Regions from separate parts of the Homo sapiens genome. Here region 2 is reported to be linked to region 1. Evidence: microRNA targets listed by miRTarBase, many of them from high-throughput screens and not tested one by one. Region 1 holds a microRNA gene; the other region holds the end of a gene's coding sequence.

Evidence for each region. Region 1 holds the annotated microRNA hsa-miR-326 (CCUCUGGGCCCUUCCUCCAG, at 2,221-2,240, opposite strand). A microRNA usually pairs through its seed, bases 2 to 8, with sites in the 3' UTR of a target mRNA and lowers its output. Matches are read on the target gene's strand: a 7mer-m8 pairs with bases 2 to 8, a 7mer-A1 pairs with bases 2 to 7 and ends in A, and an 8mer does both.
Region 2: the mRNA of ATXN2L is a reported target of hsa-miR-326. The part of its 3' UTR that is shown has no 7-base or 8-base seed match.

What each region holds. Positions count from the first base shown.
Region 1 is chr11:75,332,888-75,337,272 of GRCh38, forward strand. It overlaps MIR326 (microRNA 326), which reads right to left and starts at 2,299; the gene lies at 2,205-2,299. The region is part of intron 1 of ARRB1 (arrestin beta 1); the gene reads right to left. RefSeq lists enhancers at 201-734, 1,803-2,337, 2,338-2,871.
Region 2 is chr16:28,835,926-28,840,310 of GRCh38, forward strand. ATXN2L (ataxin 2 like) reads left to right here. Exons shown (of 22, transcript NM_007245.4): 22 at 8-1,307. The coding sequence ends at 340. Among named protein-coding and RNA genes, the nearest start is that of MIR4721, 5.9 kb to the right of the region's middle.

The DNA of each region.
Region 1 (4,385 bases):
CCATCTCAAAAAAAAAAATGTACCTATAGCCTGGAAGCTCCCCCCAACCCCTGCCCACCGCTTTGAGTTGTCCCACCTTTCTGAACCAAACCAATGTATTCCTTAAATGTATTTGATTGATGTCTCATGCCTCCTAAAATATATAAAACCAAGTTGTACCCCGACCACCTTGGGCACATGTTCTCAAGACCTCCTGAGGGCTGTGTCACAGGCCACGGTCACTCATATTTGGCTCAGAATAAATATCTTCAAATATTTTACAGAGTTTGACTCAACAACGCTCACCAAATTGATTACAGCAGGTGCTAAGTGCTCTGAAGAAAAAAACAAAGCCACTTGTCAAGAAGGGCAGAGCCACAGTTGTGGGTGGCCATTCAAGCTCTGCAGGGCAGAAACCATACAGTAAGTGCTCTGGCAGGAGCACACAGTAGGTGTGTTGTAAGCAGGTTTCCAGCTAAAACTTAACACTGTTTTCTTTGGGCCCAGTGCAGCTTCTTGCCAACCAGTTCAGGGTGTATTGAAGGCATTGTGCCAGGGCTGGGGAATAGAATGATTGGTGAACAAAAATCAGTCCTTGCCACCACGGAGCCCACACCCAACTGGGGGCACAGACAAACGGGGAAGTGTAAAAGAGAAGTTGATGAGGGTCATGGGGCAGGAGAGGGACAATCAGCATGTATTGAGCACCTACTGTGTACCAGGCACTGTGTTAAGCCATGCATTATCTCATTTAAGCCTTACCACAACCCTATGGGGGTGAGGAGAGGATTTTATTACCCCCATTTTAAAGATGACAAAACCAAGGTTCAGAAAGATTATGTAACCGTCTCTAGGTCACAGGCATAACAAGCAGTAGGGGTGGGATCTGAAACCTAGCCGGACATCATGTTTGTTCTTCGAAGCCCTCCCCACAGCCACCTGTCTTAGGGAAGCACAGAAGGCAAGACATTGCTGCCAACAAACTCCGCTTCCCTGACTCTGCAGAGGGATGCACCGCACCCTGCCAGCCTGGCTTCCTTTCTGAGCAGGAAAGGTCAGCTCGGCCTGCCCTGGCAGCTCCCCTCAGGCACCAGACCAGCCAGACTCCTGACCCAGTCCCAGGAGCAGGAAAGGCCTGTCCAGACTTCTACTCTGCCCCACTCCCACAGAAGGTCCCATCCCAGGCCGGGCGCGGTGGCTCACGCTTGTAATCCCAGCACTTTGGGAGGCCCAGGTGGGCAGACCACAAGGTCAGAAGTTCAAGACCAGCCTGACCAACATGGTGAAACCTCATCTATACTAAAAATACAAAAATTAGCTGGGCGTGGTGGCATGTGCCTATTATCCCAGCTACTCAAGGCAGGAGAGTTGCTTGAACCCGGGCTGAGATAGCACCACTGCACTCCAGCCTGGGTGACAGGGCAAGACTCCGTCTCAAACAAAAAAAAAAAAAAAAAAAAGGCCCCATCCCGGTTACAACAGCCCCTTCCCAGGCAAGCCGTGCTCCACAGTTTATAACCACTTTCACCCTCTTGATTCGTCTGACCACCTCACCCCAGCAGCTTGTATCCCAGAGCCTAATACCAGGCCTGGCACACAGCAGGTTAATTTGACAGACAGCAGGACAGACTATCCCAATGAAAGGCATGGGCTCCCCTGAGCCATCTCCATCCAGCTTTCATCAGCATTTCCTGAGCTCCCAGGACAAGCCTGGGGCTAGACCAGGCAGTTTCACCTATGGTTCATTATTTTAACCTTTCCAGGAAGGTCTTATCTCCATTTTGCAGAAGAGGAAGATTGAAGTCAGAGAAGCCTTTCCAGTCTCTAATTTACATGGCAAGTGAAGCTGCAGGTTCAGCCTGCCCCAGAACTGGCTCCCCTGGATGCCTTTCAGGTGTTGCTTCTGTAGGGAGGGCTCTAACCTATGACAGATCTCTGCTGTGGGATGAGAGCCCCCTGAGGACATGCAGCAGATGTGGCACCAACATCCTAGCCCAAACGAAAACTTGCCACAGCAGGGCAGAGCTGGGCTTGGGCGCCTAAAGCTTACAGAGCTTGGAAGGTTTTTTTTTTGTTTGTTTGTTTGTTTTAAAAAAAAAAGAGTACAAAAATAATTTCCTTTTGCAAATTTCACAAAACCCCTGAGCACATGGACACATTGCTAGGCCTTGGAAAGGGCCCTGGAGCGTGAAGGGCTGGAAGCTGAAGCTGCATCAGCCTCATGGTGAATCCGCCTCGGGGCTGGAGGAAGGGCCCAGAGGCGATCTGAGCACCACCCGCCTTCACAAAGGCCCTGCCTCCAGCCCAACAGACAGATGAGGCTCCGGAAGACATTCCTTCTTCTTGATGGGAGTCCCGCTGCTACTTAACCCTCCCTGCAGTAGGTCCAAGTCTGTCTGTCTTTCTCTTGCCATGGTTTCAGAAGAAGCAGATCTTGGCCGGACGTGGTAGCTCACACCTGTAATCCCAGCACTTTGGGAGGCTGAGACGGGAGGATTGCTCGAGCCCAGGAGTTCAAGACCAGCCTGGGCAATGTAGCAAAACCACATCTGTACAAAAAATTTAAAAATTAGCCTGGGATGGTGGCGAACACCTGTGGTCCCAGCTACTCAGGAGGCTGAGGAGGAAAGATTGTGTGAGCCCAGGAAGTCAAGGCTATAGTGAGCTATGATCACACTACTGCACTCCAGGCTGGGCAACAGAGCCAGGCCCTGTCCCTGTCTCAAAAAAAAAAGAAGCAGAGCTCAGCTGAGTCTCGGACCTGCCTGCGGAGGTCTGCTGCTCACAAGGGCAGCACTGCCAGATTTCTTTGTGATCCTGGGGCACAACCCCAAGAGGAGCCTTCCATGCCTGGGCTGGAATCCTGGGCCTGGAATCCTGGGCTGGCAAGGGCTGCCCTATTAAGAACCCCATCCTCAAACATTTGTAGGGTATGATACAGTTTACCAAATGTTCCCACATCCCACATCCACATCCCGTTTGGCCCACACGACAGTCCTGGAGGTGAGCAGGGCAAGCTTTATTGTCCCCCTTTTATAGACGGGGACAAAACATGAGACTTGCTGTGCACCTATTGCATACTAAAGATGCCAAGGGGCTTTCCACACGTGACAACTCACAGATACCCTGTGAGAAACCAAGGCTCACTCAGTGTCTGGGGCTGGGCCTGAGAATGAGCCTGCAGCCCTGCTCTCCCATCTCGCAGCCCGTGCCTCTGCCCTGTCTCATCTCAGTCTGGCATGGACAGCTCAGAAGGCAGTGGGCAGGCACGCTGAGACTCAGTAGGTTGAGGAAGAAGAGGCCTCCAGCTACCAAGGCGGAAGAGTAGCTGAGGGCTCAATATATTTAATAGAAATCAAAAAAGTGAGAATCAACCGTGCCCTCTCTGGATGTGTCTGAGGAAGAGCACATGGCCCTTGGGAGCCTGAAACCTGTTTGAAAGCAGTCACCTTACAGACTCAGGGCCTGATGTCCTCCCCACACCCTGCCAAGCTGCAGATGGCCCCACCCCTACCTCCCACTGTCCACATGCTAGGCCTTCCAGACCCTTCTGCTGACTCCTCTCAGCGCCCAAGGCAGCCACCCAGTGCTTGCCCTGGCCTGTTCAAGTCCTACTCCTGTCCTTCACTAATGCTTGCTTAATTCGTGGATATACCTACTCTACGAATCTTTATGAGAAGATACTGTAGGGTGACCCACAGTCCTGATTTGCCCAGGAGTGAGCTGAGGGGTTTCCTGAGATGCGAGACTGAGACTGTCCCAGGAAAATTGGGATGGCTGACGACCCTCATGTACTGCATGCCTGGTCCCTGGGCTGGGTGCCAAGGACACATTTATCTACCAAACATAGTCACTGCCCTCAAGAAACTTCCAGTCGGAGAGTGGCTGCCACTCAATGAGAAACCACTGTCAAAGGCACCTGTTCAGCCCCTCACACACATGATCCATCACCACCCTATGAGGGGAATATTATCACCTCCGTGGTATGCATAAGAAAACTAGGGCTCAGAAAGGTGGCACAATGTGCCCAGAGTCAGAGTTACAAGTGACCTGCTAAGATTTGAACTTGATCCAATGAAACAGAAAAAGGGCAGTTTCCAGCATGAACATTATGGAGATAGAAAAAGATAGACATGTTTTATTTAATTCATTTTGTAGCTCCAGTGTCTGGCATGTTCTAGGTATTCAGGAAATGCGTGAAGGGAGAGAGGGAGATCTAAGCCTTATTTAATTATCTCCAGGCTAGGAGATTCCATCCCTCAATTCAAAAGCCATACATTTCCCTTTTCAAAGTCAGTTTCAGACCAGGCACAGTGGCTCACACCTATAATCCCAACACTATGGGAGGCTGAGGCAGAAGGATCTCTTGAGCCCAGGAGTTTGAGACCAGCCTGAGCAACACAGTG
Region 2 (4,385 bases), not on the chromosome of region 1:
TCCACAGGCCCATGTCCAAACTGGAATCACAGCAGCCCCGCCCCCTCACCCTGGGGCTCCCCACCCGCCCCAGGTGATGCTGCTGCACCCACCCCAGAGTCATGGGGGGCCCCCCCAAGGCGCGGTGCCCCAGAGTGGGGTGCCTGCACTCTCAGCTTCCACACCCTCACCCTACCCCTACATCGGACACCCCCAAGGTGAGCAGCCTGGCCAGGCGCCTGGATTTCCAGGAGGAGCCGATGACAGGATTCGTGAGTTCTCATTAGCTGGGGGAATTTGGCATGGAAGAGCTGAGGGGCTGCAGGTGGGGCAGGATGCACGGGTTCTGGGTGGGGAGTGAGGGGTCTTGGAGGCAGGGCTGTCCCACAGGGCGCCCGCCGACCTGCACCTGTCTGTGAAGTATGTAGGGTGGGCAGAAGCCACAGTCGCCGCCGCCAGGGGCTTGCTCCTGGCTCTGTCCTTTGCTTCCCTCCGTCCTCGCTCAGTTGTGATCCAGCAGCCCCCCTCCCCACTGCCTCCCCAGCTCTCAGTGACCCCGACTGTCTCCTGACTTAGCCGAGGTAAGGTCAGTGCAGCAGACAGGGCCAGACTGGGGTGTGGGGGGCTGAGCTGGGCACATGAGTGAGGGCTCTGGCTTACTGGGAAACAGCGATTGACCTGTGCTTCTGACAGCCCCCGAGACACCTTGAGGAGGCCGCTCCTTCCCAGACACACCCCCACGCCCCCACTGGACGGCATTGGAGGAAGGGACAGCTGCTTGGGTTCTAATGCTCCTGCTCTCTTCTCTTTCCCCTCCAACCAGTTCAATCTCATCCCTCCCAGCAGCTCCCCTTCCACCCCCCGGGGAACTGAAGATTGTCCTGGCCGCGACCTGAGACCTCCATGAGTGGAGGGAAGAGTGATCTATGTCTCTTCCCCCAGCAGCTCGGACCACTCCCAGCCCCCCATCCCCCCGTTCCCCAGGGGAGCTGGGGAATTCCTGCCAAGCACCTTGAATGGGAGGGGCCTCACAGAGGGCAGGGCCAGGGTCCAGCAGGGGTGGGGGGTTCCTGCTCTGCCCCTGCCCGTCCCCACCCAGTCTTGCCCTCCCATCCTCTCATCTATTCCCCCGCTGGAGACGGAAGATCTTTTATTTTCTATTATTTATAACTTCAGACTTGGGCCCCCTGTTCTTTCTTTCCCATTAACTTGAGTGACCTGTGTGAGAGACAGACAGATGCCCCACGAGGATGGCTGGACAAGGACTTTTACTTTTTATTACATAAAAATATTAAAAAATAAATAAAAAAAATAAAATTTTAAACTAACTTAACCTGCCTGGAGTTTCCTCCTTGGAGACTAGAGTGGGGTGACAGCTGTCAGTCTTTTGTGGCATTGATAGGTGCTGCATTGTGACCTGTTCCTTCACCTCCATGTAAAAATCGTGTCCAGTGGCCAGCCATGGTGGCTCACGCCTGTAATCCCAGCACTTTGGGAGGCTGAGGTGGGCAGATCACCAGGTCAAGAGATGGAGACCATCCTGGCCAACTTGGTGAAACCCCATCTGTACTAAAAATACAAAAATTAGCCAGATGTGGTGGGACATGCCTGTAATTCCAGCTACTTGGGAGGCTGAGGCAGGAGAATCACTTGAACTCGGGTGAAACCCTGTCTCTACTAAAAATACAAAAATTAGCCTGGCGTGGTGGGACATGCCTGTAATCCCAGCTACCTGGGAGGCTGAGGCAGGAGAATCACTTAAACCCAGGAAGCGGAGGTTGCAGTGAGCTGAGATCACTCCATTGCACACCAATGGTGGCCAGTTTTTGAAATCTAGGATGATGGGGAGCCAGATCGGGATCCTGTGCCATGCATTTGAAGGTGGGTTCCAGACTTCATGTGAAGTTGTGTAGTTGATGACTGAGGTTCTGGATGACCGGATGGCTAAAAGCACGTGAGATGGGAGTCCGCTTCCCAGGATGGGACAGCAGTGGCACAGTTCCCAAGGATGCTGTCCCTGACTGGCTCTGGAACTGCTACATAGATAGCTCACCCAGCTGTCTAGTGACTATTTTCTCATCTTGAACTTGGCTTCATCTCAAGGTGTGATTCAAAGTTTCATTTCTAATATGAGTATCTCATGAATTACATACACCTCTTTATGTTGAAGGGTGAATGTTTATGGTCATTGGAATTAAAATCCTGATGGATGTGCAGCTGACTGTGGATGAGAGCTGTAAAGGTGAAGCTGTTAGTGGGAGAAGAGGGGAGAGGATTGGTTGGGAACTGGGCTTACTGGGGAGCAAGAGCAAAATTAGGCATTATGGGTGGGACAAGAAGATTGAAGCATGGGATGTGGAAATGACAGCAGGCTCCAGAGGAGGTAGTTTTTCAAGGAGGTTGAGAATTCTCTCGGAGACTTGACCTTGGTTTCCTTGCCTAAAATGGAGGTGATTTCACCTTTCCAGGATTTTAAGGAAGTGGCTGGTGCTCAGTGGTAGACGGGTGTTTCAGCTCTCACCAAAGCCAGAGAAAGCTGGCTGAGACCAGGACAGGAAGAGTGAAGGCTACAGTATTGGGGAAGAATCCCAGCATATGCAGATTTGGAACTTGGTAATAGGTGTACATGGTGGGGTGGAGAGAAGGGGTTATTAAAGAGGTTAAAAAAAAAAAAAAAAAAAAGGACTTTATGTGGTAGCCACTTGGATGCTAAAAATGGGCGGGGTTGGAGTCCCAAGAGCACTCAGCAGGTAGATGTGGGGTGGTGCAGGAGCTGCAAGGCTTCAGCTGGGCTCAGGATATTTGAAGTGTAGATGGAGAGACAGGTATCTACTATGAAATATGGCAAGTATTACTGGGTAATCTTTCAATTTTTTTTTTTTTTTTAAGAGACAGAGTCCCATTATGTTGGCCAGGCTGGTCTTGAACTCCTGGGCTCAAGCAGTTCTGCCTTGGCCTCCCAAAGTGCTGGGGATTACAGGTGTGAGCCACCACACCCAGCTGAGTAGTCATTTTGATGCTTTCTGGAAGGACTGCAGATTGTACAGCAGTCCGCCCGCATCTGGGGGGGATGTGATCTGAGATCCCCAGTGGATGCCCATAGTACCAAACCTTATGTATACTATGTTTTTTCCTATAGCTATGATGAGGTTTAGTTTCTAAATTAGGCACAATACTCTTGTGCTTCGGGGCCATCACTGAGTAAATCAGGGCTACTTGAACACAATCATTGGAGTGCTGTAACGGTCAATCTGATAACCAGCACGGCTACTAAAGTGACTAACAGGCAAAGGGATGGTTCACGTCCTGACAGGATGGATGGAGCAGGATGGCAAAAGATTTCATCATACTACTCAGAATGGTGCTCAACTTAAAATCTGAACTGTTAAATAGAAAATTCTAGGCCAGGTGCGGTGGCTCACACCTGTAATCCTAGCACTTTGGGAGGCTGAGGTGGGTGGATCATGAGGTCAAGAGATCGACACCATCCTGGCCAACATGGTGAAACCCTGCCTACTAAAAATACAAAAATTAGCTGGGCATAGTGGCGCATCCCTGTCGGCCCAGCTACTTGGGAGGCTGAGACAGGAGAATGGCTTGAGCCCGGGAGGTGGAGGTTGCAGTGAGCAGAGATCGTGCCACTGCACTCTGGCCTGGCGACAGAGCGAGACTCTGTCTCAGGAAAAAAAAAAAAAAAAAAAGAAAATTCCAGCTGGGTGCGGTGGTTCACGCCTGTAATCCCATACTTTGGGAGGCCGAGGAAGGTGGATTATTTGAGGTCGGGAGTTCGAGATCAGGTTGGCCAACATGGTGAGATGCCATCTCTACTAAAAATACAAGTTAGCCAGGTGTGGTGGTGGGTGCCTGTAATCCCAGCTACTTGAAGGCTGAGGCAGGAGAATCACTTGAACCCGGGATGCAGAGGTTGCAGTGGGCCGAGATCGTGCCACGGTACTCCAGCCTGGGTGACAGACACTGTCTCAAAAAAAAAAAAAAAAAAATTCCAGAAATAATCAGACCAGTGTTGACAGTGGATAACTGAAACCAGGGATAAGGGCAGAGACTACTGTATGTTTACCATCTTTGAGCAGAAATCTCAAAGTTGGAAGGGAACTTAGCCTTCAGCCAGCCAGAAATTCCTCTTGGCAGCCCGTCAGCCTTGCCTTGAGCACTGAGGAGAAGACAAATCTGCCCTGTCATTGGACTTCTTTTTGCAAAGTTCTTCCCTCTTCCTCTTCTCTCACCCACTTCCCTTAGTTTGCCTCTGTTCTGGAGTCAAAAATCAGGTTTTGCATTTTCTCAAAACAGCTCTTAAGTTGGGCCCAAGAGCCCTCCCTTCTGGGAGCTCATCTTAGCCATCCTGGGTGTGTATTCATTTGTCAGGATGCATTTGTGATAGGGGTGCC